2 separate regions of the Homo sapiens genome follow, and region 2 is linked to region 1. Evidence: fine-mapped expression QTL. A gene starts in region 1. The other region holds a variant in brackets. All regions are shown on one strand. Distances are between the middles of the regions.

The links.
Region 2: its variant is fine-mapped to the expression of DLGAP2 in thyroid (GTEx, PIP above 0.99).

Annotation. Positions count from the first base shown.
Region 1 is chr8:733,409-748,724 of GRCh38, forward strand. DLGAP2 (DLG associated protein 2) reads left to right here and starts at 4,220. Exons shown (of 15, transcript NM_001346810.2): 1 at 4,220-4,417. The coding sequence starts at 4,400. It overlaps LOC124902044 (a long non-coding RNA gene), which reads right to left and starts at 3,622. Exons shown (of 2, transcript XR_007061156.1): 1 at 3,449-3,622; 2 at 2,626-2,809. LOC401442 (a long non-coding RNA gene) reads left to right here and starts at 5,140. Exons shown (of 1, transcript NR_134292.1): 1 at 5,140-6,966.
Region 2 is chr8:1,104,644-1,120,564 of GRCh38, forward strand. The region is part of intron 2 of DLGAP2 (DLG associated protein 2); the gene reads left to right. LOC124900249 (a long non-coding RNA gene) reads left to right here and starts at 965. Exons shown (of 2, transcript XR_007060781.1): 1 at 965-4,286; 2 at 4,975-15,921. RefSeq lists enhancers at 1-295, 3,572-4,488. The variant G/A (reference allele first, on the strand shown) is at 9,347.

The DNA of each region.
Region 1 (15,316 bases):
AAGCAGAAACTTGATGGAAATTCATAGAATTTCGAGGAAAAGTTAGACATTGACTGTACACCATTCTCTGGCGGGACCATGCAAATGGGGCAATAACTGGAGGGTTTTTGAAGACAGAACACATACACACACACACACAGACAGAGAGAGAGAGAGAGAGAGAGAGAGAGAGAGAGAGAGAGAGAGAGATAATTTGACCTGATCAAATTACTGTTGAAAATGAGTGATGCAGGAGGGGAAATAATCCCTGTAATGAGGCTGCATCTTGAACTTGTTCTCCACTTCATCATTCTCACCAGCACTCAAGCCCACTGTGGACGCCCCCATAACAAAATCCTCCCAGGAAATAATGTATTTTTCTCCAGCCCTGTTTCTTCAATCTCTCCCACACTCAAACTGGCGGAAAGAGTTGATTACAAAGCCCGTCTCCACTTTGACGTCTTCCATGGACTCTGTGACCCCGTCCAGCTTTTCTCTCCACCCCTCCACTGCACCTGCTCCTGACAAAGTCCCCAAGGCATCCATGTCCCCAGCTCCAACACACAGTTCTCAGTAAGCATGTAACACACTAAGGCCTCCCAGAAGTGTCATCCAATTGCTGGGCCAAACTTGGGGGTCATTGGTGACTCTCCTCTTCCTCTCTTCCTGAATAACCCATCCAGAAAAATCACATCAAGCGCATTCTACTTGCAACGTGTCTTACTTCCACTGCTGAGTTTGTGTTTTCATCATTTGTCACTAGGATTTCTCCAGCCTTTTTTAAGTTGATCTCTGAAATCCCAGGATTTCTCCGAGCATTTTTAAAATGATCTCAATTCCACTCTTGTTCCTCACTCCCATCCTACCGACATTTCTTCTTATAGCAGCCAAAATGGTCATTTTAAAACCTCACTGCCATTCAAAAATCACTGAAGGTGGACCATCCAGCAACAGGATAGGGAAGAAAAACCACACAATCACATCATTAGATGCAGACAAAGCATTTGACAAAATCCAACACCCATTCATGATTTAAAACCGAAACACCCTCAGCCAACTATGATTAGAGGGTAACTTCTTCAGTTTGATAAGGGACACCTACAAAAACCCTAGAGCTAACAGCATACTAAATGGTGAGAAACTAGAAGCCTTTCCCACTAAGATCAGGAAGAAGGCAAGGCCCCCCCCTCTTGCCACTGCATCTCACTGTTACACTGCAATTCCTGGCCAATGCAATGAGACAAGAAAAGGAAATACAAGGTATACAGATTGGGAAGGGAGAAATAGAAGTTTTCTCTGCAAATGACAGGATTGTCTATGAAGAAAATCTCTGCCTTGCTCAAAATCCTACATCATAATTCATTGTATAGAGGATACAAATCAAAGCCCTTAAAATGTCCTGAAAGACCCCTGAGTTTTTCTCCCGTCACAATCATGTGGTCCTTTTCTCCCTCAGTTGCAGTTATTCTGACTGTTCAGTTAAACGAAAATGTGGCCAGGCATGGTGGCTCATGCCTGTCATCTTAGCACTTTGGGAGGCGGAGGCAGGAGGATCGCTTGAGCATGGGAGTTGGAGATTAGTCTGGGCAACATAACAAGCCCCTGTGTCTACTAAAAATACAAAAAGTTAGCCAGGCATGGTGGCACATACCTGTAGTCTCAGCTACTCAGAAAGCTGAGGTGGGAGAATCACCTGAGTCAGGGAAGTTGAGGCTGCAGTGAGCCGTGACAGCACCACTGTACTCAAGCCTGGACAACAGGAGTGAGACCCTGTCTTAGAAAAGAAAAAAGGCCAGGTACAGTGGCTCACGCCTGTACTCCCAGCACTTTGCGAGGCCGAGGCGGGTGGATCACGAGGTCAGGAGATCGAGACCATCCTGGCCAACATGGTGAAACCCCGCCTCTACTAAAAATACAAATACAAATAATAATAATAATAATGATAATAATAATAATAATAATAATAATAATAATAATAGCAGGGCATGGTGGTGTGCACCTGTAATCCAGCTACTCGGGAGGTTGAGGCAGGAGAATCGCTTGAACCAGGGAGTCAGAGGTTTCAGTGACCTGAGATAGTGCCACTGCACTCCAGCCTAGTGACAGAGTGAGACTCCGTCAAAAAAAAAAAAAAAAAGGCATCAAGTCCTTCTATCTCCCAAGGTCTTCAGGCCTGCTCTTATCTCCCTAAATCCTGTTCCCAGGGCCATGGCAGAGGCCACCTCTGATGCCACCCTCAATGTGCTCTCAGGTCCCCGTGCACTCCCCTGCTGGTTGGCCTCTGGACTTTCTTTGAAGCTTTGGGAGGTGCTCAACTTGGGGAGTGGGGTGTGTGGGTGAGGAGCAGCCCTCAGTCACTGGGACCTAGAAGCTGAAAAGCTGTCCAGCCTTCCTAAGCTGACGTGCACTCCAAGCTGCTCCTGTTAGAGCACCCCAGCAGGACGGGGCCCCGGTGGCCACAGGAGCAGCCCAGCGTCACCGCAGCCTCTGGGACGTCCTCTCCTGCCCTGCCTCTCTCTCCCTACTTCCTCTCTCTAGTTTCCTGGGATCGATCTCCCAAATGAACTACCTGCACCCAAATCCACACCTCAAAACCTGCTTGTGGGAGAACCCAGGGGGAGATTTAATAACGACGTCCTCAAAAAGTTCTTTTCTGATGTCACAAACTGTATTTGTTGCCCTTTTCACATTCACCAATAACACTCCATATGTTTCCTTCAGAGAATTATAACTTGTAATTGTCTGTTCCTTGGGTAACTTCTGGGCGGATCCCTCTCTAGACTGAAGGCTTCATGGGGCGGCAACCGTGGTTTTCTGTGCTGCTCACACGCTGAGAACACAGGAGAGGCCGTCAGTACATTTGTGTGATTTTCTTGTTGCGGTTGCATGAAATAATATATATATATATTTTTAAAAAACGTGAAGGGATGGGGACGAAATGCAGGGGAGGAAAGCAAAGGGAAAGTAAATTGTGAAATGAAAATAAATTGGCCTGGAATCTCTCCCTAGTTGAGGTTTGGGCGCTGAATGCACCTTTTTTTTTTTTTTTTTTGACAGTGGAGACCACTGATAGATTCGGGAAACATTTAGAAGAAATGGACAGCGGCCGGACTTCTTTCTCCCATTCACCTTTCTACCCCCTCGTCGTTTAGCACTCTGCCTTGAAAATAAACTGCAACTGATGAATATTTTGGTGATCAATTATACGGGGAATTCTTACAGAGCCTGTTTTTTGTTTAAAGATCTTGGAATTTCTGGAAAAGATTGGTTTGTCCATTCCAAATATTTTGGATGACCTGATTTCATTCTAACTCCCATCCGTCTTTCTATGCGGTTTGTTTTCGCATCTTTTACCTCATTTAAATGCCGTAGCCATGCAGGTGGAAAGCAGAAATCCATTTCTGCGTTTATGTTAAACTGGGGCTGAGAGACTTGCCCAGGGTCGGTGACCGCCCAGGGATCCCCATACCAGCGCGTCTAGCTCCCGCGTTCCGATCCCGGAAGGGAAAACCCATGATCCTGGCGAGGGTCCGTCCACACGTGGCCAGGGTGGCTGATCTTCCCGGCTGCTGTGGTTGTCAACACCACTTCTCCGGATCGATTTTCCCTTTTCCTCGGCTCTGTCGTCCATACGCCACTCACAGCAAACCCAGGCGGCGGGCCCCCTCCGAGGGCGCTCCTTGCGTCCGGACCCAGGTTCTCGGGGCGCCCCCCGGTGGGTCCCCGCGAAGCCGCCGCCGCACACCTTCCTCAGCGTAGCCCGCCAGTGGAAACCGGGGGAGGTTCTGCCTCCAGCACCCAAGCGGCGGCCGCACCTCGCAGTGAGACCCTCGCAAGCGCCCGCGCCTCCCTCGCCCCGCGTCCCCTCTGCCCCGCGAGCCCCCCTGGGCGCCGAGCCGACTCGAACCCGAGCGCGAGTCCCGCGCACAAACGCGCCGGCGCGTCTCTAACAGCGGTCCAGAAAGGCTGACCCTGCCCGGGGGCGACGGGTGTGACCGGGTCCCCCGCTAACTTTCGGGCGCGGTGAGCGTCGCCTGCGCGCGCCGCGGTGGAGGCCGCTGCTTTCCCGCCGGGAGCCCGGCACAGTCCCCGGGTGACCCGCGCGCCCCGCGCAACAGTTGGAGCCGGGCTGCCCGCGCGCTCCCCAAGCCGGGCCCTTCCCCAGATGCAGCCGCGCGCCGGCCGCCCCCCAGTGCGCCGGTGCCTCCCTGGGCGCCGAGTGCGCAGGCGCCGGCCGTGAAGACCGACCGTGCGCCGGGCTCGAGCGCGGTCTGAGCGCGCGGCGCCTGCGGCGGCGAACGGACGGACGGACCGCGGACGGACGTACTGACCCCAACCCGCGAGCCCCGGGAGCCGTCGGTCTGAGGAGGGGCCGCTTCGCCATGTCGCCCCGCACCTGCTGAGCCCGGAGCGTCCGAGGATGTCCGCGCTGAGGAAGGTGCGAGCCGCCGGGGGCTGCCGGGAGCCGGGCGCGGGGCTCCGAGAGCCGTCGAGGCGGGGAGGGCGCGGTGTGTCGGACCCGCGGGGACGCCCCGAGGGCGTCAGGGTTGGGGGCGGGGGCGAGCGGGGGTCGTGCCGCCCGCCGGGGCCGGAGCGCTGGGGACCCCAGGGACAGCCTGTGCTCGGGGGTCGCGCGTTGCGCTCCTCGCCGGGCTCCGCGCATCCCTGGCCGCGCTCGGGGGTGCCGGGACCCTGGGCTCCGGGGGTGCGGGAGCGCACGGGGCCGCGGAGGTGTGAAATTCTCCGCTCTGCCTGCCCGGGGTGGAGGGGGCAAAGCCTGGGGGGTGCCGGCGCGCCAGGGGCTACGCGCCTAGCTCCGGTGGGGCAGCTGCGAGCGAGTGGGGGCGGCGGGCAGCAGACTGCATCCCCCTCCCCCCAAGCCCGGGTGGAAACGCCGACGGGGACTGGGAATGAATGAAGGGTGCCGGGCTGGGCTGCGCGCACGGGGGCTCGCGGGGGCGGGGGCGACCAGGATGGGGCCCTTGTGCCGGGCAGCAGCGGCTGCCGAGACCAGGCGGAGTGGAGGGTGCGCGCAGCGAGGGGGTGGCCGCCGCCCGGCTCTCCAAGTGCGAGCGAGGAGCTCGGGGTCTTTTTTAGGGGTGGTTGCTAAGCGAGGCGCTACCCAGCGCAGGGTTTTGTAACTAAGCCTCCCCCGGCAGCGGCTGTTGCTGTCTCCGGCTCCTTCGCTAACGATTGCAGGAGAAATAATGAGGATGTAATTATTACAGCCCTGCGCGGAGGGCTGGGGGGCGGCGGACGCGGGCTCCTCTGCCTGCGCGCCCAGGTGGGGCTGGGCTGGGCTGGGCTGGGCTGGGCTGGACTGGACGCCTCTCCCCGCCCGGCCCTCCCTCAGCGCGCGGCGTGTGCGGTGCCCGAGGCTTCGGAGCAGGCTGGACCTGGGAACCCGGGGAGGGGCCTGGAGGAGAGATAGCTGGGCGAGGTGGGCGCCGGCGAGAAGGCGGAGCCCCCGGACAGCGTAGGTTCGCAGGTGGAGAGCGGACGCGGGGGCGAGGGTGCGCGGCGGGTCTGCGATGCGCGTCGGAAACTCGCGGCCCCCGGTCCCGGCCCTGCGCGCTTGGAGCCCGGGTCCTTCCAGCCCCTGCGCGACGCCGCCGCCGCCGCCGCCGGTGAATGGCGATCCCGGCCACGGCCTGGAATTGGAAATTCGTGACTTGTCGGCGGCCCCGGTCTTCTATCGATTAAAGATAAAGCGATCAGCAGTGAATTTATCCTTCGTGTGGATGAACTCGGCCAGCCCGGGCTGTGGGGGGTTTGGGAACTGTAAATATTCTCCAAAGCGCCGCCGCTTCTCCCGTCTTCCCGGACTCGAGGCTGGAGGCAGCTCCGGCGACGCGAAGGGGGGTACCCCCCGGAGAGGTCGGGCCTGGGGCGCGGCGGACAGAGACCCGGTCCCAGAGCCTGGCGGAGCCCGACAATCCGCCCTGTCAGGAGGAATCTCATCAACAGCCCGTGAATTAATTGTCCTTGCAGTTGGGAAATAACCCGGTACCTCGGCGTAGCCCGAGGGAGTCCAGGAGGCTCTCCAAGGAGCCTTCCCCCGGGTCGCGAAGCTGCGCTAAACCCCGGCCCCAGCGCACCTTGGAAGGCGCATTTTGGCCTGAGGTGAACGCACCTTACACCATTTTCATTTTACTTCCTTTTCTCTGAGAAAGGTAATAGATAACCAAGGCCAAAAATGGCGAAATGATGAAAAAATGGTAATTCTTGGCAGGTCAAGTTGTTACTCTGGGTTTAAAAAAATGTCATTAATCAGGATTTTCCAGTAGCCAAATTGTCTTGTGCCGGCAGCTGGGTGACTCACAGATTTGGCTCCAATAGTAATTGTAGAGTGTGCGTACCATTTCCTTCTGGATGGTGTGACTTTTTCATTGCTTGGAAGAGAACACATTAGAATATTTTATCCCCTACATCTGGCAGCATGTGGAGCAGGCTGTAGGCAATACTCTGTCCAAGCACATCTGGGCGGGGAGGCCGTGGAGGGACCGAGGTGACACAGAGCCGGCCCTGTCCTCGGTTCTGTCTCGGGTCACCTGAGGCATCTTCACCGCGGCAGCTCGGGCGCGTGGGATCTGCTCTCAGTGATGACCTGGGACGCATCCTGCCTCTGTGCGCCATTCCTGCCCCTTCACTGTCACTCCTTGGTGATCGCCCGTGTTCTTGGGTAAGCAGTGGAGAGGCACAGAATGGCTTCCTCTGTTGATCTACCGCGTCAAATCTGTATATTATAATTTCAGGTTAAAGGGTAAGAGTTGTAAGCAAAATGAGTACTACGTCAAATAATTCAAAGGAACGAAGTAATTAAAAGTAAAGCTTTCTCAGCACGAAGATGTTTTCTCAGATAAGCATTCTAAGTCAACTTTTCATAGTATTCAATGTCTATTTGTTATTCTTCGAAAGAACTTTGCACTTATGATTGTCCAAAGTGGTACAGCTTGAGACAGAAATAAACATGTATTTATTTACCAACTTTTTGTATGCCTTTTGTTACTTGTGATTTAAATGGGTTAATTCGATTTTTAGTTTTGTAGAATTCAGATCACATGACATTATTTCTCCCCAGTGACATACATGCCCTTCTGTGGCAATCTATTGCTTCTCTTATTTGTGTCTACTTATTTCAGTTTTGAAATTGGTAGAAATTCCAAATTAAATATTAAAAGCAAAAATAGGCTTCGTGGAATTTAAATTACATTGGATTCTGTGTACCCAGAACCCAACTAATTCTGAAACTAAAGTGCTCTAATATCTTTTTAAGGGTGAGAGGATTTTGTTTTGTTTTATTTTGAAGATATCATCTTCCATAATGTTGAAATTGAAGAAATGCTATAATTTTTTTATTATATAACTGTATTTGAGGAAAAGCTTCATGACTCCTCAGTTATCCAAGGAGTTGAATGATGTATACTTTGATTATAGATTTTAAAATGAAGTTGATTAAATATTCTATTTATTGACCCTCAGGATGGATGCTCCATGGTCATTCATTGGATACAATAAAAATAACTATGATTCATCATTTTGGCCAGATGGGAGTCATATTTAGAGCATTGCCATCATGTTGGTTATAAAAGAATTACAGGCTGCCATACAGGAAGTTAGTAGGCACACTTTCTATGCAGTTAAAAATTATTCTTAATCAACCGTAGTTTTACCAACTAGTTTTCATCATACGAGGCTTTCTAGTGCCACTAACTTCTTCAATATGTTTTGTTGTTTCCTGGGTACTTGTGCGTACAAAAACTGAGCATAGTGATTTCACGTGTGCTCATGACAAAAGACTTTAATTTCTAGGGAAGTTAAGCAGATGGGCTTTGGCATTGACCAGGCATGGGGTCGTAGGGTGTGCAAACTCTAGTTTAAATCTTGCATCTACTGGTAGCCACCTTTCCCTTCCAAGGCTTAACAGCAGTAACAAATTAATCTCCTCAGCAAAGGCAGTAGGAGCTCATTTGTAAAGCTCTGTTTTTCTTTTTTCATGTCATTCTTCTGTGCACTGACTTCATCTGCCTATGAAAATCTTCTCCCAGTCCTCAGGTCATGGGCCTTGACATGCAGTCCCTTAACTTTAGCTCCAGGAGAGGGGCCTGGGTGTTCTGACATCCCGGTGATGGGTGTCCGCTGCAGGTGCACCTCTCCTGACTTGATGGCAGTGTCTTCATGTGGGATGTCAGTTGCCTTAGTTCTGGAAGTGTCCTGTCTGTATTTATTGGCGGGCCTTCAGGAGTTGAGCTTTCTAGACCCGTTACTGCAGACTCCAGTGTATTTGCAGTTCAGTGTACGCTTCCCTTTCCAGGCAGCAGCCAGCTCCCCTTAGGGAACACCTGCCACCTCATGGGGTTGGCTTGGCGGACCCTACTTCCCGTCAGAGGTGGCTCCTGACTGGCCGGAGCCCTAACTCCCTCTCAAGAGCAATTGGATGAGTGAAGAGCGGGAACTTTCAAGGAGAGGAAAGCTTTAGGAAAAACAGCGGGAAAGGTGTAAGGCCTGCAGTTGTGGCATCAGTGCACAGCCTTGCAGGGATGGCCTGTCTGGAAATGACACCTTCCTCATCTGTCTGTGGAGGAGAAGGGCGGCTGTTATGCAGAGAGCTTGGTCCTGAGGATGCTGTTGGAAGCTCTGAACTAAGTTATGCCTGAACCATCATTACCCCGTGACTTTCAGTTACATAAACCAGGAGATTGTTTCTTTGAACTGAGTTTTCTGTCCCTGACAAGCAAATGGGATGTATGGGCTTTTAGTTTCTTCAGACATTTCCACATTAAACCTCTTGTTGCAGGGAAAGGCTTATTCATCTTCGGGTACTGTTTCTTATATGGTACATCGTGTGTATCGGCAGGAAAAAAAGAGAAAAATTTAAATCAACCATTTTAAACAATGAATAAACATTTGGAAATAGCCCATCTGTAAACTTGTGTTAAAAATTTTTAAAGTAACCTGTGAATCTGACTGATCGTTGTCTTTAAAATGTTTCATACTCTGTACAAAAGAAGAAAAATGGGAATGATCTCAAGGGTCCATAGAGTATGTATTTTAAGTTAGGCGGTATTGAAAAACATCCTTTTGTGTGTAACGAATGTTTGTCCTGTGACTTTTGCACAGCATTGCAAGTGGCTTTTTAGAGACAGGGTCTCCCTCTGTCACCCAGGCGGGAGTGCACTGGCATGATCATAGCTAACTGCAGTCTTGACCTCCTGGGCACGAGTGATCCTCCCACCTCAGCCTGTCTAGTAGTTGGTGTATGTCACCGCACCCAACTAATTTTTACTTTTTTTTTTTTTGGTAGAGACGGAGGTCTTGCAGTGTTGCCCAGGCTGGCCTTAGATTCCTGTCCTTAAGGAATCCTCCTGCCCTGGCCTCCTCAAGTGCTGGGATTACAGGAGTGAGTCACTTTTCCCAGCTGCATTTGGCTCTTTATTTGACCTCACCGTATTTCAGTTTTCTCATCACTAAGAGTGGGGCCAATGCAATATTAACTTGATAGGGTTAAGGAGGATTAAATGAATTCATGACTGTAAAGTGATAAGAATGGTGCACGTAGGAAATGCTGGATTAGTCTTGACTATTTTTATCATGAAAAAATACAATTGAGGCCTACTTTGAGTCAGTCCACAATGGAAGTTATCAAGCAACTCTTTGATTTCTCTCAAAACTGTTTTATTTATTATTTCTGGTCTTGTTTTACTTTTTTGTATATCTCTTGCCACTTTCCAAAAAGTTTTGGACCCAACTTAACCACAGAAGGACAAGGGAAAAAATGCTAATTAGAAAATAGAAATAGAAAATCGGAAGAAACACATGTGATAACCATGAGGATGGATGTAATTCTCTGGGCATCACGTTTGACACTGAGCTTCCAGGGAGTCAAGTCAACAAAACCCAAAACTACAAAGCCATGTTCAACCTGAGGATCATGCTTTCAGGGTAGACGTTGCATACTCATTTTTTGGTGAAGATAAATTTTCTCTGGCACTAACTTGTAAGAGATGTTCTGAGGGTAGATCTTATATTCAGGGGCTGGGGTTGTGTAATATATAACAGTTAAAAATACAGAAGTATTTTTTAATGATTTTGTCTTGATTTGGTTTCTTTGAAATAAACCAAAAGCAAAACTCACATGCACAGCCTACCCTCAGCACTGATGACCTCTTCTTGGTATTTATTTACTTACTTATTTAGAGACGGTCTCACTCCTGTGTTTCAGGTTGGAGTGAGTGGCATAATCTCAGCTCACTGCAGCCTTGACCTCCTGGGCTCAAGCGATCTTCCCACCTCAGCCTCCCGAGTAGCTGGGACTACAGGCGTGCACCACCACACCCAGCTAATTTTTTGTATTTTTAGTAGAGATGGGGTTTCACCATGTTGTCCAGACTAGACTCTGACTCCTGGGCTCTAGCCATCAGCCTACCCCAGCCTCCCAAAATGTTGCGATTGTGGGCATGGGCCACTGCGCGATGCCTTTTGCTGGTATTTGCATGTGATTTCCGTGGCCGGGTCTTCATGTCTGGATCACTCACTAAGCTACTGTGGTTTAGGGCTGAAGACGTGGATTCACGTCGTGTGTCCTGCAGACAACAGCAGTTTCTCAAGTTTCACGTGCCTTCACGTTTCCTCTGAGTCTTTGCATCTAAATGCCCAGACACCTGTTTTAGCTGAAGGAAGTGACTTGTTCTGGTGGCCGTGGCAGTCTATGGATGGAGCCATCATCGTGGTTCTCTCAGACCCAGCGCCGCTTCCCTCTTCTGTCTCTCATCTTGTGCGTTGGGAAGAAGTGCTCGTTCGCTCAGCAAGCTTAGAGGCAGCGTCTCCTCTCCACATATACCCCCGACCCACGAGATTGGGTTGGGAAGGTTTCTCTGTGCTCTGACTGTTAGGGTGACACCTCTCACCACCTTGTAATTCCCACTTTCCTTGTCTTTGATGTATTGGAATAGCCACTCTGTGAGGAAGGGTCTTGATCACCCTTGAACCCTGGCCCTGGGTCGCATCTAATGATCTGAATGGGTGAAGGTGCAGAAGAGGGGCTGACGCCTCCTCGAGGTACAGATTCCCCAGCCCAACCTGCGTCCCTCCCTCTTCTCCGGCCACGTCGCCCTCCCGGGGTGCTGGCCGTCTGCTCCCCACGGTCACTCCCTGCCTCTTCTCCGGCCACGTCGCCCTCCCGGGGTGCTGGCCGTCTGCTCCCCACGGTCACTCCCTGCCTCTTCTCCGGCCACGTCGCCCTCCCGGGGTGCTGGCTGTCTGCTCCCCACGGTCACTCCCTGCCTCTTCTCCGGCCACGTCGCCCTCCCGGGGTGCTGGCTGTCTGCTTCCCACGGTCACTCCCTGTTCCCTGCCTGGGCTGTGCCCCAGCAACACTCTGGCTTCACCCACACTGGACGGTGCTTTTCATTCCGTCCTTTCCTCATGTCTGTTCTCTCAAACCTAGTTGGAATGCTGCTTCCCCGGCCCCGATGCCTGAGTGAGGTCATGCTCCCAGCCTCCGAATTCCTCGCTTGGACTGGGTCCCGGCTTCCCCATCCCCCAGTCTGTCCGCATGCTGTCCTCAGTGCAGCAGAGATGGCGGGAAGGGGTAGCCCAGGCCATCCCCACACCTGCCGCAGGGTTTTAGGCCATGTCACTGGATAAACAGTTGCATGAACTCGTAAATACACACCGTGAATGCCTCGTTACGCCACCGTCCCTTCTCCCGCTGCTTCCGAGTTGTGGGTGCTGGAGACAAGCACAGCGGCAGGTTCTTTACCTTTTTTCTTGGTCTTTAATATGAAACCTTTAGCTCTTTAAAAATAATTTCCATTTTGTAACATTCTTTGTAATATTTTGACATTCTGAGCAAATTTCCGAACATCTGTTTTCTGGCTATACTATATATAATTTAGAAATTTGCATAAACAATTGAGAATTGTAGTTTCAACCTTTTGTTGTGGCCATTTCAGAATGAAGCACTACTGGGTCTGAAACAAAATGTTCTAGGTTGTCACTATAATTAGATTCAAAGTTTTATTTTTGTTGGTGAAACTTGAGTTCCGTAGTTCTTTAAAGCAACCAAACAGTATTTCTCAGTCTTCAATTTATCCAGCTACTTGCTTCTCTAATGATATTTTCTCAAGAGTCGCAGCACTCAATTTTAAAAAAACTCTTCTTTACATGTAACTATCCCAGCAATTTCACTTCTGGAAACTTTTCCTAAGGAAATAATCATGAATTTACAATAAGTTAGCTAAGTGGATGTTCCCTCCAGTTTTGTTTCATAGTATAATATTGGAAAACAGCAGTAACAGGATTGGGTAAATTCATGGTGGTACAGCAATGTTATAAAAAATACACATCCACAAAAACATGAAAGTTAAGTACCTAATTCTATAAGAAGGTGTTCATACCATATTAAGTAAAGAGAACGGACTATAAGACAGTATGAATACTTTCATCCCATTTCCCTAAAGCTACTGAGTTTGGAGCATAAAGACCAGACTGGAAGGATACCGACTCCAGAAAGAGGAACCCTAGAAGCCTGATCACATCTCCATCTCACTCAGCGCCAGGCCACCTGCCTATGGGGGTCCGCACCACCCCTCACGGCCTGCTCAGGCCAGCCAAGGTCATCCCCTCAACACTCTGCCCCCGTCACCCAGGCCTCCTTACTGGTGCCTGAACTTCAGTGATGGTCCTGGTCGGGGCCCGTGTGCCCTGCAGGAAGGCCGGGGGTGCGTCGCTGCTTTCCTCCAAGCCTTCCCACATGTGGAGCTTCTCAGAGAGACCAGGCCAAAGTGGGTGCCATCCCTCCAGTGCTCCCAGCTCCCTTGCCTTCTCACACCCCATGCGACTTATTTATTTTCGATGTTTTCTGATCATATCTGGCATCTGTTGAACGTTTCCTATGTGCTGGGCACTGCTGGGCGAGTTACTCATATTAACTCATAGAATTCTCATGCCAGCCCTGTGAGGTCAGTGCTGGCATTGTCTGCAGGCTGCGGATGAGGAAACTGGGGAAGAGGGGTCAGATGGCGCATTGGATCCCGTGTGGGGTCACACAGAGCCACAGGCCACGTCGGCAGGGGGGCTCCAGAGCTGGGGGCGCAGCCTCCACCATCCAGTGCCACGGGCTGGGAGAGAAGATCTGTGGGATAGAGGGCCGTCCACTGTGGTCATGGCAGTGTCCCTGCACCTGACACCTTGCTGGGCATGAGCCCCTCATCTGCTGAATGAATGTGGATCAGAATGCCAGCTGCACACTGGCAGGTGCTGAGGTGGACAGTGGTTTTGATTTTCTGTTTTTGTTTTTTTGCTGTATCAGCATACTTTTGGCTGCATATAATAGAAAGTCCCACACAAAACAGAAACTGAGGATTTGTGCGTTCTTACCACAAAGCACCACAGCCGGGCATCCTCAGCAACCAGGTTCCCTCTGTCTGCTCTGTGGCCTTCACCATCCCGGTGTAGCCCCTGCTGGCTGCGGACGCTGGTCCTGAAGGCATGATGCGAGGACGGTGCCCCTGTTAGGGTGATGTCGGCCCTGCAGGCGTGATGGGGACACCTTTGCAGTAAGGAAACCTTACTGTGAGTTCTCGGGAAGACCTCCCCTCACATCTCACCATGTCCGAGCCAGTGGCTAGGAAGGGAAATGGGCCCCTTGCCCTGGGCCTGGGGTGGTTTTACTCGCCCTCCTGGCCTGAGCTGTCCTGGTTCTCGGGGGGCTGGGGAGAGCGACACTGGAAAGCCGGCCTGTCCTAGAGACCAGGAGGCTCTAGAGTGTGAGGGGCTGCCGGGCACTGCCCCGCCTCTGACTGCTCTTCTGAGTTTGTGTACTACCCACAACGCGTCATACTTCTGAGTCTTACGGGACTTCTTTACGTTTTCATTCAGTAAAAAGACTGCAAGATATCATAAAGCAGACAGGGAAGGAGAAACCTCCTCTGAAAACCATCGAGCCGTAGTGACAAATGCACCATTTACCATGCTCCGCGCCAGTCACGCGATGGGCTTCTCCGCCGGGCCTCGCTTAGGCATCTTTGGTCCCAAGTTCCAGAAACAAGCTCTGGCTGATGAAAAGCAAGGCGGAGAGGCTGGGACAGGCCACGTTCCAGCCGAGGGGAACGCGGAGGACACAGGCGGCTGGAGGGTGACCTTTGAAGTAGGACGGGGCGCAGGGCGGGGGTGGGGGGCTCTGCAGCAGTATGAGGGGCTCCATGACGGGACGGGCAGGCTGTGTGGCAGGATTGGGTGCGGGGGCTCCAGGATGGGGCAGGGTGGGGGCCTTTGTGGTGGGATGAGTGTGCTCCATGGTGGGATGGGCGGGTCTGTGGTGGAATGAACGTGTCTGCGGTGGGATGGGGGGGCTCTGCGGTGGGATGGGGGTCTCTGCGGTGGGATGGGGGGCTCTGCGGTGGGATGGGGGGCTCTGTGGTGGGATGGGCGGGCCTGCGGTGGGATGGGGGGCTCTGTGGTGGGATGGGCGGGTCTGCGGTGGGATGGGCGGGTCTGCGGTGGGATGGGCGGGTCTGCGGTGGGATGGGGGGCTCTGCGGTGGGATGGGCGGGCCTGCGGTGGGATGGGGGGCTCTGTGGTGGGATGGGCGGGCCTGCGGTGGGATGGGGGGCTCTGCGGTGGGATGGGCGGGTCTGCGGTGGGATGGGCGGGTCTGCGGTGGGATGGGCGGGTCTGCGGTGGGATGGGGGGCTCTGCGGTGGGATGGGCGGGTCTGCGGTGGGATGGGGAGCTCTGCGGTGGGATGGGCGGGTCTGCGGTGGGATGGGCGGGTCTGCGGTGGGATGGGCGGGTCTGCGGTGGGATGGGGGGCTCTGCGGTGGGATGAGCGGGTCTGCGGTGGGATGGGCGGGTCTGCGGTGGGATGGGGCCGGCCTCTGTGGTGGGATGGGTGGACTCTGGTGGTGGCTCCGTGGGGGACTCCGTGGTGGGATGGGCAGGCTCTGGTGCTTTCTGTCTCTGTCTCGCTCCTCCAAGACTGAGGTCCACAGAGCCAGCTCAGCTCAGCCGCATGCTCCACGTAGCCACAGGGGTGCAGGGCCCCTGGGTGGGAACAGAGTGGGCCATGTGGGCGTTGGTGGGTCAGCATATCCCACACTGTGACCCGAGGAGGAAGCCCTTACCTGGCATTTGTTTTCTCCCAGAAAAGCAGCAGAGTCCAAAGCATAGAGGAGCCGAGAGATAGAATATCTCGTATCATTTACCACGCACTTTAGCTTTTTAAAAAGTGCTTACATATATTGGGTGACATCCAGCCCTGCGGTGCTGTGAATTTGCAAATGGCCTCACTGAGGAGCTCGTGGTGGCACACAGGTGTTCTGCACTGCCCATCAGC
Region 2 (15,921 bases), 370 kb after region 1:
CTGCAACCCCGCTTGGCAGAGGAAGAAGCTGTCGCTCCCTGGGCTGGTGGGCTGCACTGAGGGGTTGGGGTCCCGGGGCCCAGGGCTGCCACCTCCTTCCCCAGTTTGCTCCTGTGCCCGAGGCCTGTCAGCGAGGCAGCCCCGGGACCACTCGCACCTGCTGTTGGGTTAATTACCCTTAATTAGGTTGCATCCCTCACCAGAGAGCAGGAAGTGGAGTGTGCTTCCTCCATCTGCAGGGCCTCTGAAGAGCACCGGCAGCTTCCTTCTTAGCAGAGGAGAAAATCTCTGCCATCTCGTGCTCGCCTACCTCGACTCGCCAGACGCCCTGGAGCAGAGGAGGAGCAGTGGTCGGCAGCGGCCAGCCGTGCAGGTGCCACACCTGATGGTCCACCTGGGAGAACCAGGCAGGAAGCCGGAAAGGTGCGGTCTCATGACATGAGGATGTGTTGAAGGAGGCCCACGGGTGCCCCGAATCCCAGTGTACAGGCTCATACTTTATCCTGAGATTTCGGAGTGATGATGTGTCATTGATTTACCTTCTTAACGCCACCTTTTCATATGTGATCCATTCTACAGAGAAAAAGTTCTTAAAAATTACAACCGTGGTGCCTGAAAATGAAAAGTATTCTGAAAGTGAAGACTCTACCACAGTTGTGATTAGTTAGGGCTGTGGAACTGTAGGGGTCTCATGTTGTGGGGATTAACCTTGTTCTGCCTGAAGGAGGAGATAGTGCTGGGAACAGGTTCCCCGCATTCTCACCAGCACCTGTGACTTTTGTCCTTTGATGAGAACAGTCACCCTAACATGGTTCTGGTCCGTGTTTCTCTGATGGTGGGAGATGCAGGGAGGGGGTAGCCATGCTGAGCGGGGGTCTGTGCCTGAGTGACAAGGTAGGAGCTTCCTGCCGGTGCACTATCTACTGAAGGGAGCCATTCTAGGAGGGTTTTCTATTGAAGGGAGCCATTCTAGGGTTTTTTTTTTTTTTACTGAAGGGAGCCATTCTAGGAGGGTTTTCTACTGAAGGGGGCCATTCTAGGATGGTTTTCTACTGAAGGGGGCCGTTCTAAGAGGGTTTTCTACTTAAGGGGGCCATTCTAGGAGGGTTTTCTACTGAAGGGGGTCATTCTAGGAGGGTTTTCTACTGAGAGGAGCCATTCTAGGAGGGTTTTCTACTGAAGGGGGCCATTCTAGGAGGGTTTTCTACTGAGGGGGACCATTCTAGGAGGGTTTTCTATTGAAGGGGGGCCATTCTAGGAGGGTTTTCTATTGAAGGAGGCCATTCTAGGAGTGTTTTCTATTGAAGGGAACCATTCTAGGAGGGTTTTCTATTGAAGGAGGCCATTCTAGGAGGTTTTCTACTGAAGGGAGCCATTCTAGGAGGATTTTGTATTGAAGGGAGCCATTCCAGGAGGGTTTTCTATTGAGGGGAGCCATTCTAGGAGGGTTTTGTATTGAAGGGAGCCATTCCAGGAGGGTTTTCTATTGAGGGGAGCCATTCTAGGAGGGTTTTCTATTGAAGGAGGCCATTCTAGGAGGTTTTCTACTGAAGGGAGCCATTCTAGGAGGATTTTGTATTGAAGGGAACCATTCTAGGAGGGTTTTCTATTGAAGGAGGGCATTCTAGGAGGGTTTTCTACTGAAGGAGGCCATTCTAGAAGGGTTTTCTATTGAGGGGGAGCCATTCCAGTAGGGTTTTCTATTGAGGGGAGCCATTCTAGGAGGGTTTTCTATTGAGGGGAGCCATTCTAGGAGGGTTTTCTATTGAAGGGAGCCACTCTAGGACGGTTTTCTACTGAAGGAGGCCATTCAAGGAGGGTTTTCTATTGAAGGGAGCCATTCTAGGACGGTTTTCTACTGAAGGAGGCCATTCTAGGAGGGTTTTCTATTGAAGGGAGCCATTCTAGGAGGGTTTTCTACTGAAGGGGGCCATTCTAGGAGGGTTTTCTGCTGAAGGAAGCCATTCTAGGAGGGTTTTCTATTGAAGGGAGCCATTCTAGGATGGTTTTCTATTGAAGGGAGCCATTCTAGGAGGGTTTTCTACTGAAGGAGGCCATTCTAGGAGGGTTTTCTATTGAAGAGAGCCATTCTAGGAGGGTTTTCTATTGAAGGGAGCCATTCTAGGAGGGTTTTCTATTGAAGGGAGCCATTCTAGGAGGGTGAGGTGCTTGTCACTTACTTGTGAGTGACACCTGTGATGAACTGTGTTCAAAAGCAAATTATCAAATGAGAATAGAACCATTTGGACTCTGTAGAGGATAAGACTCTAAGGGTTCTAGGAGCAGGATTGCTTCAACATCTCAGACGTATTTTCTTCTGGGAAGAGTCTTGCCAGATAAGCAGAGTGAGAGAGTCTATTAAACCGCACCTGTATACAGCATCTAGCAGGCAGCAGTGAGTGTACTGACAATGCATTTCCCATTCTAACAAAATGTGACTTTTGTGTGAGTTGCTCACCTGCGGGCGGTATCACACACGCATCAAAATAAAAATCAGTGGGGGTACTTAAAGCACCACAAAGTGGAGAGAGCAGAGGCTTTGCAGTGCACTGGTTCTGTGACTTTGCTCCAAGACTTGGTTTTCTCATCTGTAAAATGGAGACAATAGCTCACAGAGAGGCTGGAGGTGAGGGTGACTGAGTGCTTTCTAGATACTCATCACCACTCCAGGGCTGGGAGGCTGGGCTGGCACAGACCCCTTGCTGTTGCTGAGCCCCCGCACCCGGGCCTGCCTAGGCCTCAGATCCACTCACACAGAGGTCAGCGAAGGCTTCCAGAGGCGTCCAAAGGAAGCGTCTGTGCACCAGGTAGATCCTTGTCCTGTGTGGGTCTCATTTGGCCTGAGAAAAAGCCACAGCTCTTCACAGGGAGAGCCAGGGCCCCTCGCGTGGGAAGCTCGTGTGCTGTTATTTTCCAGCGGAATTCCAGGGTGGAAACACGGAGGCAGCTGACTATCGAGAATCCTAGGAGAATGGGCTTTCTGTGTGACGTGTGCCTGGAAGGGCTTCCTGAGGCTTTATTTCCCCTGCTCTTCCCTGCTCTGTCCCAGCAGAGCTGTTTTTGTAAAGCACACATAGTATTTGCCATTCGTCACATTTATTATGCCAGGGACTCTGTTCTCCATCCCCCTCTGTGAGTTACGGCCCATCCTATGCTGTGTTTCCACACCCATGTTGCATTTGGCAGGAGCCTTCCTGACACCGAACCACCCTAAGCTGACAAATGTCTATAGCTCGGGGAGCACGAGAGGGAGCTCACGAGATGGCAGACAGACCAGGATGTGCACAGAACGTAACCCTGGGTTGTGGACTCAGCTTTCCTTCCTGAAGCGCCTGAAGCAAATAGAGAATAGTCGTAGTTGAGCCTGAGTTTCCAGAGGGGCAGAAAACCAACTTGCGTGTTTTCTTTTTATTGTTGCTTTTTTGAAAAAATGGTCCTAATTTCAGCTTGTTTTTCCAACCATGTGAAAGGATGGACTGGACGCTGCGCAGAAGTGGAGATCTTAGGTAAGAAGAAAGGATAGGAAGGTTGATGGGAAATGAATTGGCTGTCACTGTCCTTCCTGTCCAGATGCATTTGGAGGCTTTCTGGAGAATGGTTTCCAAACTCAGTATGTGCTGAATGTTTCCCCAATCTATGGGGAAATGAAAAGAAGACAGTGCAGTCAATTTCTGAAAGTTAACCACTTTCAGCATTAATAGAACAAACGAAACCCTGGGAGCAGCCTTCATGCTTGTTTGACGTTGCAGGGCGGCCTGTGATTGAAGCCGTCATGTAAGATGATGCTGTGAGATGTGAGTGAGTGCACGTGCCTGTGATGTGCGCTGGGTCTGTGAAGTGTGCACGTGCCTGTGACGTGTGCTGGGTCTGTGAGGTGTGAATGTGTCTATGAGGTGTGCATGTGCCTATGAAGTGTGCTGGGTCTGTGAGGTGTGCACGGGTCTGTGAGATGTGCATGGGTCTGTGAGGTGTGCACGTGCCTATGATGTGTGCACGTGCCTATGAAGTGTGCTGGGTCTGTGAGGTGTGCACGGGTCTGTGAGGTGTGCATGGGTCTGTGAGGTGTGCACGTGCCTATAATGTGTGCACGTGCCTATGAAGTGTGCTGGGTCTGTGAGGTGTGCACGTGCCTATGAAGTGTGCTGGGTCTGTGAGGTGTGAATGTGTCTATGAGGTGTGCATGTGCCTATGAAGTGTGCTGGGTCTGTGAGGTGTGCACGGGTCTGTGAGATGTGCATGGGTCTGTGAGGTGTGCACGTGCCTATGAAGTGTGCTGGATCTGTGAGGTGTGCATAGGTCTGTGACGTGCTGGGTCTGTGAGGTGTGTACGGGTCTGTGAGGTGTGCACATGCCTATGAAGTGTGCTGGGTCTGTGAGGTGTGAATGTGTCTATGAGGTGTGCATGTGCCTATGAAGTGTGCTGGGTCTGTGAGGTGTGCACGGGTCTGTGAGGTGTGCACGGGTCTGTGAGGTGTGCACGTGCCTATGAGGTGTGCTGGATCTGTGAGGTGTGCACGGGTCTGTGAGGTGTGCATGGGTCTGTGAGGTGTGCACGTGCCTATGAAGTGTGCTGGATCTGTGAGGTGTGCACGGGTCTGTGAGGTGTGCATGGGTCTGTGAGGTGTGCACGTGCCTATGAAGTGTGCTGGATCTGTGAGGTGTGCACGGGTCTGTGAGGTGTGCATGGGTCTGTGAGGTGTGCACGTGCCTATGAAGTGTGCTGGATCTGTGAGGTGTGCACGGGTCTGTGAGGTGTGCATGGGTCTGTGAGGTGTGCACGTGCCTATGAAGTGTGCTGGATCTGTGAGGTGTGCATAGGTCTGTGACGTGCTGGGTCTGTGAGGTGTGTACGGGTCTGTGAGGTGTGCATGGGTCTGTGACATGTGCTGGGTCTGTGAGGTGTGCACGGGTCTGTGAGGTGTGCACGTGCCTATGAAGTGTGCTGGGTCTGTGATGTGTGCACAGGTCTGTGAGGTGTGCACGGGTCTGTGAGGTGTGCATGGGTCTGTGAGGTGTGCACGTGCCTATGAAGTGTGCTGGATCTGTGAGGTGTGCATAGGTCTGTGACGTGCTGGGTCTGTGAGGTGTGTACGGGTCTGTGAGGTGTGCATGGGTCTGTGACATGTGCTGGGTCTGTGAGGTGTGCACGGGTCTGTGAGGTGTGCACGTGCCTATGAAGTGTGCTGGGTCTGTGATGTGTGCACAGGTCTGTGAGGTGTGCACGGGTCTGTGAGGTGTGCATGGGTCTGTGAGGTGTGCACGTGCCTATGAAGTGTGCTGGATCTGTGAGGTGTGCATAGGTCTGTGACGTGCTGGGTCTGTGAGGTGTGTACGGGTCTGTGAGGTGTGCATGGGTCTGTGACATGTGCTGGGTCTGTGAGGTGTGCACGTGCCTATGAAGTGTGCTGGGTCTGTGATGTGTGCACAGGTCTGTGAGGTGTGCACGGGTCTGTGAGGTGTGCATGGGTCTGTGAGGTGTGCACGTGCCTGTGATGTGTACTGTATCTGTGAGGTGTGCACGGGTCTGTGAGGTGTGCATGGGTCTGTGACATGTGCTGGATCTGTGAGGTGTGCATGGGTCTGTGACGTGTGCTGGATCTGTGAGGTGTGCACGGGTCTGTGACATGTGCTGGATCTGTGAGGTGTGCACGGGTCTGTGACATGTGCTGGGTCTGTGAGGTGTGCACGGGTCTGTGACATGTGCTGGGTCTGGGTCTGTGATGTGTGCATGTGCTTATGGAGTATGCTGGATCTGTGAGGTGTGCATGGGTCTGAGAGGTGTGCATGGGTCTGTGACACGTGCTGGGTCTGTGGGGTGTGCATGGGTCTGTGACATGTGCTCGGTCTGTGATGTGTGCACGTGCCTGTGAAGTGTGCTGGGTCTGTGAGGTGTGCATAGGGTGGGTGAGGTGTGCACGTGCCTGTGAAGTGTGCATGGGTCTTCAGTGTGTCTGCATCTGGCATGTGAGAGATCCAGCAGTGCCATACTGTCCCTGAAATTAGGGGAAAACAATGAGAAACCCAAACATCTGCAAGTAACTGCTTTCCATTTTCAGGGAAGATTTATAGCCTTTTTTTTTTTTTTTTTTGAGAGACATTGAGTGTCCCGCAGCCCTGCAGTGGCACTGTTTTTACAGACCCTCTCTCTCACATACAGCTTTCTATATTCACCCTGCACAGCCCTGACCCCCGGGACCCCACACACCCTCTGTGCCTGGTGCAGGGCTCAGCTACCCCTGTCTGTGGGGCCCTTCCCTGTGGATGGTGCTTTTGGGGGTTTGGGGTCAGGGAGTGTGAGGGTTGGTTCCTTGGCTGGGTAAGTCAGATGCATCTGCCAGCCGAAGGTCACACGTGGGTTTGAGCAGCCTCTCCTTGTGCTTGCTGGAACACATGCTCCACACCCGTGTGCCACCTGCACGCCACAGTGCCCGACTCCGGGGCTGCTTTCTGCCCGGGCCTTCCTCCGCCTTACCAAGCCCAGAACATCACTGATGGCAGGGCTGGAAATGCAAAGATGGCCAAGCTACAGAAAATAAATTAAATACAAAGAAAACATGGAGAGAGGTGGCTTAGTGTCCGACTTGCCTAGTTTCCTGTTGGCGCTCCCAGAGTGATGGCAGAAATCGTCTTCCCTCAGCTCCCGGAAGACCCAGCACTGTGTGTGCTGAAGGCTGTGGATTTTCAGGCCAGACTCCCTGGGTTCACGTTCCAGTCCCCATTTTCTGTGTGACCTTGGGCGTGTTTCTTTTTTTTTTCTTTTTTAACTTTTATTTTTGGTTCCGCGGTACATGTGAAGGCTTCTTACTTAGGTTAACTCATGTCACAGAGATGTATTGTATAGGTTATTTCATCACCCAGGTTTAATTAAGCCCGCTACTCAATAGTTATATTTCATGGTCCCCTCCCCGCTCCCATATGCCACCCTCCGATAGACCCCAGAGTGTGTTCTTCCCCTCTGTGTGTCCATGTGTTCTCATTATTTAGATCCCACTTGTAAGTGAGAACATGCAGTATTTGTTTTTCTCTTCCTGGGTTAGTTTGCTAAAGATAATGGCCTCCAGCTCCATCCATGTTCCTGCAGAGGTCATGGGTCTTATTCTTTTTATGGCTGTATAGTATTCCATGGTATAGATGTACCACATTCTCTATATTCAGTCTGTCATTGCTGGGCATTTAAGTTGATTCCATGTCTTTGCTTTTGTGAATAGTGCTGCAGTGAGCATTCACGTGCATGTGTCTTTATGGTAGAATGATTTATATTCCTCTGGATATATACCCGCTAATAGAATTGCTGGGTTGAATGGCAGTTCTGCTTGTAACTCTTTGAGGAATCACCACACACTGCTTTCCACAGGGGTTGAACTACTTTACACTCCCACCGACAGTGTATAAGTGTTCCTTTTTCTCCACAACCTCACCAGCATCCGTTATTTTTTGACTTTTTAATGATGGCCATTCTGACTGGTGTGTGATGATATCTCATTGGGGTTTTGCTTTGCATTTCTCTAATGATAAATGATATTTAAGTTTTTTCATATGCTTCTTGGCCACATGTATGTCTTCTTTTAAAAAGTGTGTTCATGTCCTTTGCCCATTTTTTTTTTTTTTTTTTTTTGAGACAGAGTTTTGCTCTGTTGCCCAGGCTGAAGTGCAGTGGTGTGATCTTGGCTCACTGCAAGCTCCGCCTCCCCGGTTCATGCCATACTCCTGACTCAGCCTCCCGATTAGCTGGGACTACAGGCATCCACCACTACACCCGGCTAATTTTTTGTATTTTTATTAGAGACATGGTTTCACCATGTTAGCCAGGATGGTCTCGATCTCCTCACCTCATGATTCACCTGCCTCAGCCTTACAAAGTGCTGGGATTGCAGGCGTGAGCCACCGCGCCCGGGCGTCCTTTGCCCACTTTTTAATAGGGTTGTTTTTCTCTTGTAAATTTGTTTAAGTTCCTTATAGATACTGGATATGAGACCTTTGTCAGATGCGTAGTTTGCAAATATTTTCTCCCATTCTAGTAGTTTGTCTGTTCGCTCTGATGATAGTTTCTTTTGCTCTACAGAGGTTCTTAAGTTTAATTGGATCCCATTTGTCAATTTCCCCTTTTGTTGCAGAAATTGCATGAATCATGAAATCTTTGCTCATTCAGGATGATATTGCCTAGGTTGTCTCCCAGGGTTTTTATAATTTTGGGTTTTACATTTAAGTCTTTAATCCATCTAGAGTTGCTTTTTGTACATGGCATAAGGAAGGGGTCCAGCTTCAATCTTCTACGTATGACTAGCCGGTTATCCCAGCACCCTTTGTTGACTAGGGAGTCTTTTCCCCATTAATTATTTTTGTCAGCTTTGTCTAAGATCAGATGGTTGCAGGTGTGTAACCTTATTTTTGGGCTGTCTATTCGGTTCCATTGGTCTGTGTGTCTGTTTTTGTACCACTGTCATGCTGTTTGTTACTGTAGCCCTGTAGTATCATTCAAAGTTGGATAATATGATGCCTCCAGCTTTGTTCTTTTTGCTTATGATGGCCTTGGATATTTGGGCTTTTTTTTGGTTCCATATGAATTTTACAATAGTTTTTTTCTAGTTCTGTAAAGAGTGTCATTGGTATTTTGATAGGAATAGCAATGAATCTATAAATTGCTTTGGGCAGTATGGCCATTTTAATTAAGTTGATGCTTTCTATCCATGAGCCTGGAATATTTTTCCATTTGTGCATTCTCAGATTTCTTTGAGGAGCATTTGGTAATTCTCATTGAAGAGATCTTTAACCTCCCTTGTCAGCTGCATTCCTAGGTATTTTATTCTTTTTGTGGCAGTTGTGAATGTAATTACCTTCCTGATTTAGCTCTCAGCTTGGCTGTTTTTGGTGTGTAAGAATGCTAGTGATTTTTGTACATTGATTTTGTATCCTGCAACTCTGGTTAAGTTGTTTATCAGCTGAGAGAGCTTTTGAGCCAAGACTGGGGTTTTCTAGATATAGAATCTTGTCATCTACAAACAGGGGTACTTTGACTTCCTCTCTTTCTGCTTGGATGCCCTTTATTTTTTCTATTGCCTGATTGCCCTGGCCAGAACTTCCAATACTATGTTGAATGGGACTAGTGAGAGTCGGCGTCCTTGTCTTGTGCTAGTTTTCAAGGGGAATTCTTCCAGCTTTTACCTATGCAGTATGATGCTGGCTGTGGGGATGTCATAGATGGCTCTTAATATTTTGAGGTATGTTCCTTCAATACCTAGTATATTGAGAATTTTTAACATGAAGAGGTATTGGATTTTATTAAAAGCCTTTTCTGCATCTATTGAGACAATCATATGGTTTTTGTCTTTAGTTCTGTTTATGTGAT[G/A]AATCACATTGATTGATTTGTGTATGTTGAACCAACCTTGCATCCAGGAGATGAAGCCTACTTGATTGTGGTGGATTAGCTTTTTGATATGCTGTTGGATTTGGTTTGCAAGAATTTTGCTGAGGATTTTTTTCATCGATGTTCATCAAGGATATTGGCCTGAAGTTTTCTTTTTTTGTTGTGTCTCTGCCAGGTTTTGGTATTAGGATGACGCTGGCCTCATAGAATGAGTTGGGGAGGAGTCCCTCCTTTTCAGTTTTTTTTAATAGGTTCAGTAGAAATAGTACCAGCTCTGCTTTATACATCTGGTAGAGTTCAGCTGTAAATTCATCTGTCCTGGGCTTTTTTTTGGTTGATAAACTATTCATTACTGATTCAATTTCAGAGCTTGTTATTGGTCTGCTCAAGGAATCAGCTTCTTCCTGGTTCAGTCTTGGGAGGGTGTAAGTGTCCAGGAATTTATCCATCTCTTCTAGGTTTTCTAGATTGTGTGCATAGAGGTGTTCATAGTAGTTTTTGGTGGTTATTTTTATTTCTGTGGGGTCAGTGGTAACATTCTCTTTGTCATTTCTAATTGTATTTATTTGGGCCTCCTCTCTTTTCTTCTTTATTATTCCAGCTAGCAGCCTATCTTACTAATTTTTTTTTTCAAAAAATGAACTCCTAGATTCATTGATTTTTTTCAATGGTTTTTCGTGTCTTGATTTTCTTCAGCTCTGATTTTGGTTATTTCTTGTCTTCTGCTAGCTTTGGAGTTGATTTGTTCTTGCTTCTCCAATTCTTTTAATTGTGATGTTAGGTAGTTAATTTGAGATCTTTCCAACTTTTTGATGTGGCATTTAGTGCTACGAATTTTCCTGTTAACACTGCCTTAGCTGTGTCCCAGAGATTCTGGTATGTTCTTTCTTTGTTCTTATCAGTTTCAAAGAACTTCTTGATTTCTGCCTTAATTTCATTATTTACCCAAAGTCATTCAGGAGGATGTTGTGTAATTTCCATGTAATTTCATGGTTTTGAGTGATTTTCTGAGTCTTAACTTCTACTTTTATTGTGCTGTGGTCCAAGATTGTATTTGGCATGGTTTCAGTTCTTTAGCATTTGCCTGAGGATTATGTTCAATTATGTGGTCTGTTTTAGAGTGTGTGCCATGTGGCAATAAGAAGAATGTGCATTCTGTTGTTTTGGGGTAGAGTGTTCTATAGAGGTCTGTCATATGCATTTGGTCCAATGTGGAGTTCAGATCCTGAATATCTTCATTAATTCTCTCTCAGTGATCTGTCTAACACTGTCAGTGGAATGTTGACGTCTTCCACTATTATTGTGTGGGAGTCTTTTTCTCTTTGAAGGTCTCTAAGCCCTGCTTTATGAATCTGGGTGCTCCTGTGTTGGATGCATATATATTTAGAATAGTTAGGCCTTCTTGTTGAATTGAACCCTTTACTGGGCATGTTTCTTAACCACGGGGAATAACTTTTCATCTGAAAATTGGAGTAGTAATAACTACTTTATAAAAATATTGTGAAGATTCTGAGTTTGTGTATGTAAAGTGCCTAAGACAGTGCCTACCACACCATAGATGCTGTAGAAATTTAAATGATCTAAATACAGTGGTGGCATCTTTAGGGATCCTTCTTGTAGGCAGTGGTAAAATCAAACAATTCAGAGGACGGAGGTGTAGCTGTGAAGTGTCTGTGCTGCCAGGGATCCCCAGTGCTGAGACCACTGGCTATGTAGAGTTACAGCTGGTGCTTTGGCATGAGAATTCACATCAGCGGTCAGCCACACTCATTTTAAGGCACAAATGACAGTTTTCGAATTTGTTGAGATGATCTCATTTGGGCTCTTCTTCTAGTCAGTCATTTATCCCTGCCACACACAGGGGACTGTGCCAGGTGTATGGAACGTTGTTGTCCTTTGCTCAGTGATGGGACATAATGGGCCTGGAATCTTCTAGAAGGCATGAGAGCATCACTCATAGACATCAGTGCCCAGGAAACGATCCCAGCAGACAGCACCGTGGGAGCCATTCACTCCGTCAGACGTGGCCAGTGACAGTCACTTGGGAGGACTTTCCAGGGGTTCTTGGAAAGCTGGGGGTGTGGGCCTGGTGGGTGTCTGTGGTTTTGGAGATCTTGGCCTTGATGCGGTACGCAATCCCATCCCCATGGGGTGCGCAGGCGTCAGCTGGGGACACCCGCACTGGCCTTCCGTGTGAGAAGGGAGCAGGCCCTCCCCGTTCATCTGGGTCCTGACATGCTCTTGGGTTTTCTGTATTGTCAAGTGACTAAGGGTTACCGACCACCCTCCAAAGCACCAGCTGTGTCTCAGCCACAGCCTGGACGAAGAGTGAGCGGTTGATGCCCGGAAGACTTGGGGTCAGAAAACCTGGGTTTGGATTTAAATTCTACAATTTGGTGCTAGATAACCTTACAAGAGGCATTGAGGGTTTTCTTATTTCTTCAGTTTCTTTATCTGTAAAGTGGGGGTGACAATATTCACCTCACATTGAGAATGGGGCAGATAATATATTTGAAAATATCCAGTAATTACAATCCCTGCACTTAGGGAGGCCAATGTGAGTGAATTGCCTGACCCCAGGCATTTGAGACCAGCCTGGGCAACTTGGCAAAACCCCATCTCTACAAAAAAATAAAAACAGTTAGCCACACGTGGTGGCATGCCTGTAGTCCCAGCTAACTCAGGAGGCTCTCAGAGGTGGAAGGATTGCCTGAGTTCAGGAGGTCAAGGCTACAGTGAGCTGTGATTGTGCCACTGCACTCCAGCCTAGGTGACAGGGCAAAACCCTGTCTCAAAAAAAAGAGAAAAAAAAAGAGAATATTCATTACTGTATCTGGAACACGAAGAACTGAATAAAAATTAGTTGACTCTGAGTCTGAACACAGTTGATGGGAAGACAGAAACCAAAGCAAAACCTCTTCCGCAGCCAACAGCTACTGGCTTCCTCTGCGGAAGGGAGATCCCAGGATCGCTTCTGCCAAAAGAAAGCTGAAAAATAAACCCGATGTGCAGTCCTCAGATGAACCCTGTGCTTCTCTGCAGGATCCCAAAGCTTTATGGGTTTTTAAAATTTGCTACAGCAATTTCATCTCCTTGGGACCCAGCATCAAGAAGAGGTTTTGGAAAACCCAACACCGTCTCTTTGACCTGTCTTGGAAAACCCAACACCGTCTGTTTGACCTGTCTTCTTGAGGTGAGCCTGTGGACAAAGCACAGTGCCGAGCTAGTGCCTCGGGGCTGTGCCCTCTCTGAGGCTGATGGCACAACCCTGGGCAGGTGTGCAGACAGATCCCACCACTCAGAGGTGCCACACTGGGGACGCCACGCTGGGGATGCGGTGACGATGCACGGTCTTCTTTGAGCCAAGAAATTGAAGCCAAAGGTTAGAAATGTGTAGTGGGTTATGGGTGATCAAGTGTCAGATTCACAGAGAAGAAACAGGCTCACGGTGGGAAGATGCTTAGAAATGAGGACTGAGGGTGGGGTGGACGCTGTGTAGGACAAGCCTGAACCAAGACGGCCTTTTCATTCCTGACCGTCAGATTCAGAGAGAAGAAACAGGCTCATGGTGGGAAGATGCTTAGAAATCAGGACTGAGGGTGGGATGGACGCTGAGTAGAGCAAGTCTGAACTGAGATGGCCTTTTCATTCTTACCCTGTGGTTGCCGGAGTGAGGGGAGGGCAGTAGAGAGGAGGGGGAGGCGGCTGTTCTCCAGACCAGGACTCTTTGTAAGACACCCCCAGGGGGCTCCCCCAGGAGAGCAGGCACACAGAATCACCTGCGCATTCTTGACACTCACTTGGGCTCAGAGCCTCCCCCTTTCACAGTGGGCAGCACTGGTTCACAGTTAGGCTTTTGAAAGTTTTTTTTTTTCCTTTAAGAAAATCAGACAAAAGTATCAGCAATTCAAACATGGAAAAAGCATTTTAAAATAAAAGTTAATGAGTAGATACCGTTTTCCAGATGGAATAGTTCCAATGAAATTATAAAGCAAATTCGTTAATATTGATATGCTTTCAAAAGTTGTATAGATTCATTTGGTCTTAAGTGGTTTTGACCTGAATGCTGTACCTCAGCTCCCAAAAGCATTGCATGTCAGTTGACAGAGGAGCGGGCGGAGTGGGGAAATTAACCGCAGTTCAGAAAGTGCTTTAATGGCTTTTTCTAAAATGCATTCATTACACTTTAAATAGGCCATGTCTGGAGATTCTGAAGTCCCTTATGTAAGTAGGATGTGAGCTCGGGGGAACTTCTTCAGCTTCACTCTGGTGCTGATTCCAGCATCTGCAGCTCTTGACCCCGTAGTGTGTGAGCAGAGACTGAGAAACTTTCGAAACTGCATTACATTGTCTTTGTTCAGTTCCTTACGTGACTGAGGACAGTGAAAAGAGCCCACCTGGTGTAAAGTGCTCATTTTAGCTGCCAAGAAAAGCCTAATTTATTTTCAGGGCAAAACTTCTGCACTGGGACAAATGTCTTCATTATAATCCAAAAGCAGCATCAGGAAAAGAAGCTAAACTGTGCGAATAGAAATGAATGGGGCTGCTGCTGCTGCTGCTGCTTTCTTTTTAATCAGTAGAAATGGAATTCTGCCTCCCAAACAGAAGTCTAGGAGGAACTGCAGACGGCCCCTGTACTGAGGGCATTTTGTCAGTGCTTAGAGCAACCTTCAAGATCATGACACTCTGCTATGAGGACCGAAAGAACTTGGAGATAAATATACATGTACTATGTGGTGGGACCGTTTTTGAATCTGAACTAAATTAAATGATGGAAAACGACCTTGGGTGAGTTCTTCATGGCTGTACTTCCTGGAATGATACAATTTTTCAAAATAATTTGTTTCCTCGAAATGACACCAACACCTATAGTTAAGTTTAAATTTATGGGACTAGGTGAGTGTTATTTTGTGAGACATAGCATTATGCTTACATAGAATAATTTATCGTTTGATGTTCAATATCATTTTATTTAAGCATAACTGTGGAGAACCATTCAAGTGACTGTATAATTACTTCATATAAATACTTAATAGACAACTTTACCATTAACTATTTTCCTACTACTTTATAACCGATTCTATTTTCAATTGATAAGTGATTTTTTCCCATTTAAGTACTGATTTGCAGTTTGGCCCATATTATTTTGCACTGAGATGGCATAAATGCCACATCCTTCCCGCACTTAAGGCATGCAATTTGCAGAATAAGACGTAAATTTTAAGTAGGTTTGGAATCTTTTGTAGGACTACTTTTATTTCAGCCTTTGACATAATATAAGCTTGTTAATTCATCTGCAAAATATTTTAGTGTCCAGCGTGTTTAGCTAGAAAGAAGCTCCAGTTGCCTCCCCATGCTCTTACATGGGAGGCTGACTGTGCATCTACTGCAGTGCGTCATGTGAGTGCTGGTTTTATTCCATGACACCAAGAACATTGCTTAACTTCTGTACTCATCAGTTCATAAATGAGCACAAGGCCCATTGCTTCTCGCAGTTCAGCCCTGCTGCTCTTCTTCAGCAGATCGGGGTAGCAGGGGCAGTAGCTGAGAGATGCTGAGCAGCCTGAGGCTTCTGGGTGCCGTGCCTGGAACTGGTCCCACCACAGCACACACGCTGTTTCCTCATGTGAACAGCTGAGCTTCAAGTGATGGCATGTGTGAGAGGCTTCGCCACTCAACTTTGAATTTAAGTATCCCCAGGGACTGTCAAACTTTTTATATCCAATGGGGAATTTCACCTTGAAGTTGGACCACAGCTGCCTCTAGAGTTGGTACAAGTTGTGAGAGTCACAGTTGACCCTACCTTGACTTAGGAGAGTGGTTGGCACCATGATTTTAAATAAAATACAGTGAATGGGGTCCAGCACCCTAGCTTATTCTGCTTTAGGGACTTCTCACTAGAAAGGTTTCCTTGTAGTTGGGAAGACCCTTTCTGGAAGGCTGCTATAGGAAATGGCTAAGATGAAAAGTGGGACTCAGCACTTTTAGGGCTGGGCTGAAAAATGAGTCTGCTGGCAAAACCCTGTGTCAGGCAGCAACTTATAACAAAAACAGGAAAATCCCTACTACATCTTAGCTAAGTTGGAAATTCAAACATCTTTGCAGGTCCCATTTCACCACCGTTGGGTCTGTGGACGTAACCCTACTGAGAGTTAGGCTAAGGGTTCAGCCCCTTCATTTATGGGAGGAGGAAGAGAGCCATCCTCCATGCAGCTGCTTCTGTGGCTCACACCCAGACACGGAGGGGTCAAGCAGCAGTCAGGGCCAAGGCCTGAGAAGCTCAAATCACACTCATTAGGCATCTTCGTTCCAGCCAACATGCGTCCGAATGAGAACAATACGAAGGGGCACCCCTTCAGAATTTGTGAACACTAACCCTAGTCCTTCAGATACCATGACAGCTATGCTGGTATCTTAAGAATCCATGACTGTCCATTCTAGACCCTTCAGAAACCATAACCACCTTTCTGCTACTTTCATAGCCCACAGCCACCCATCCTTCGGAACCCACAGCTACCCAGCTGCCCATCTTCATCCCCTCAGAACCGATGACCACC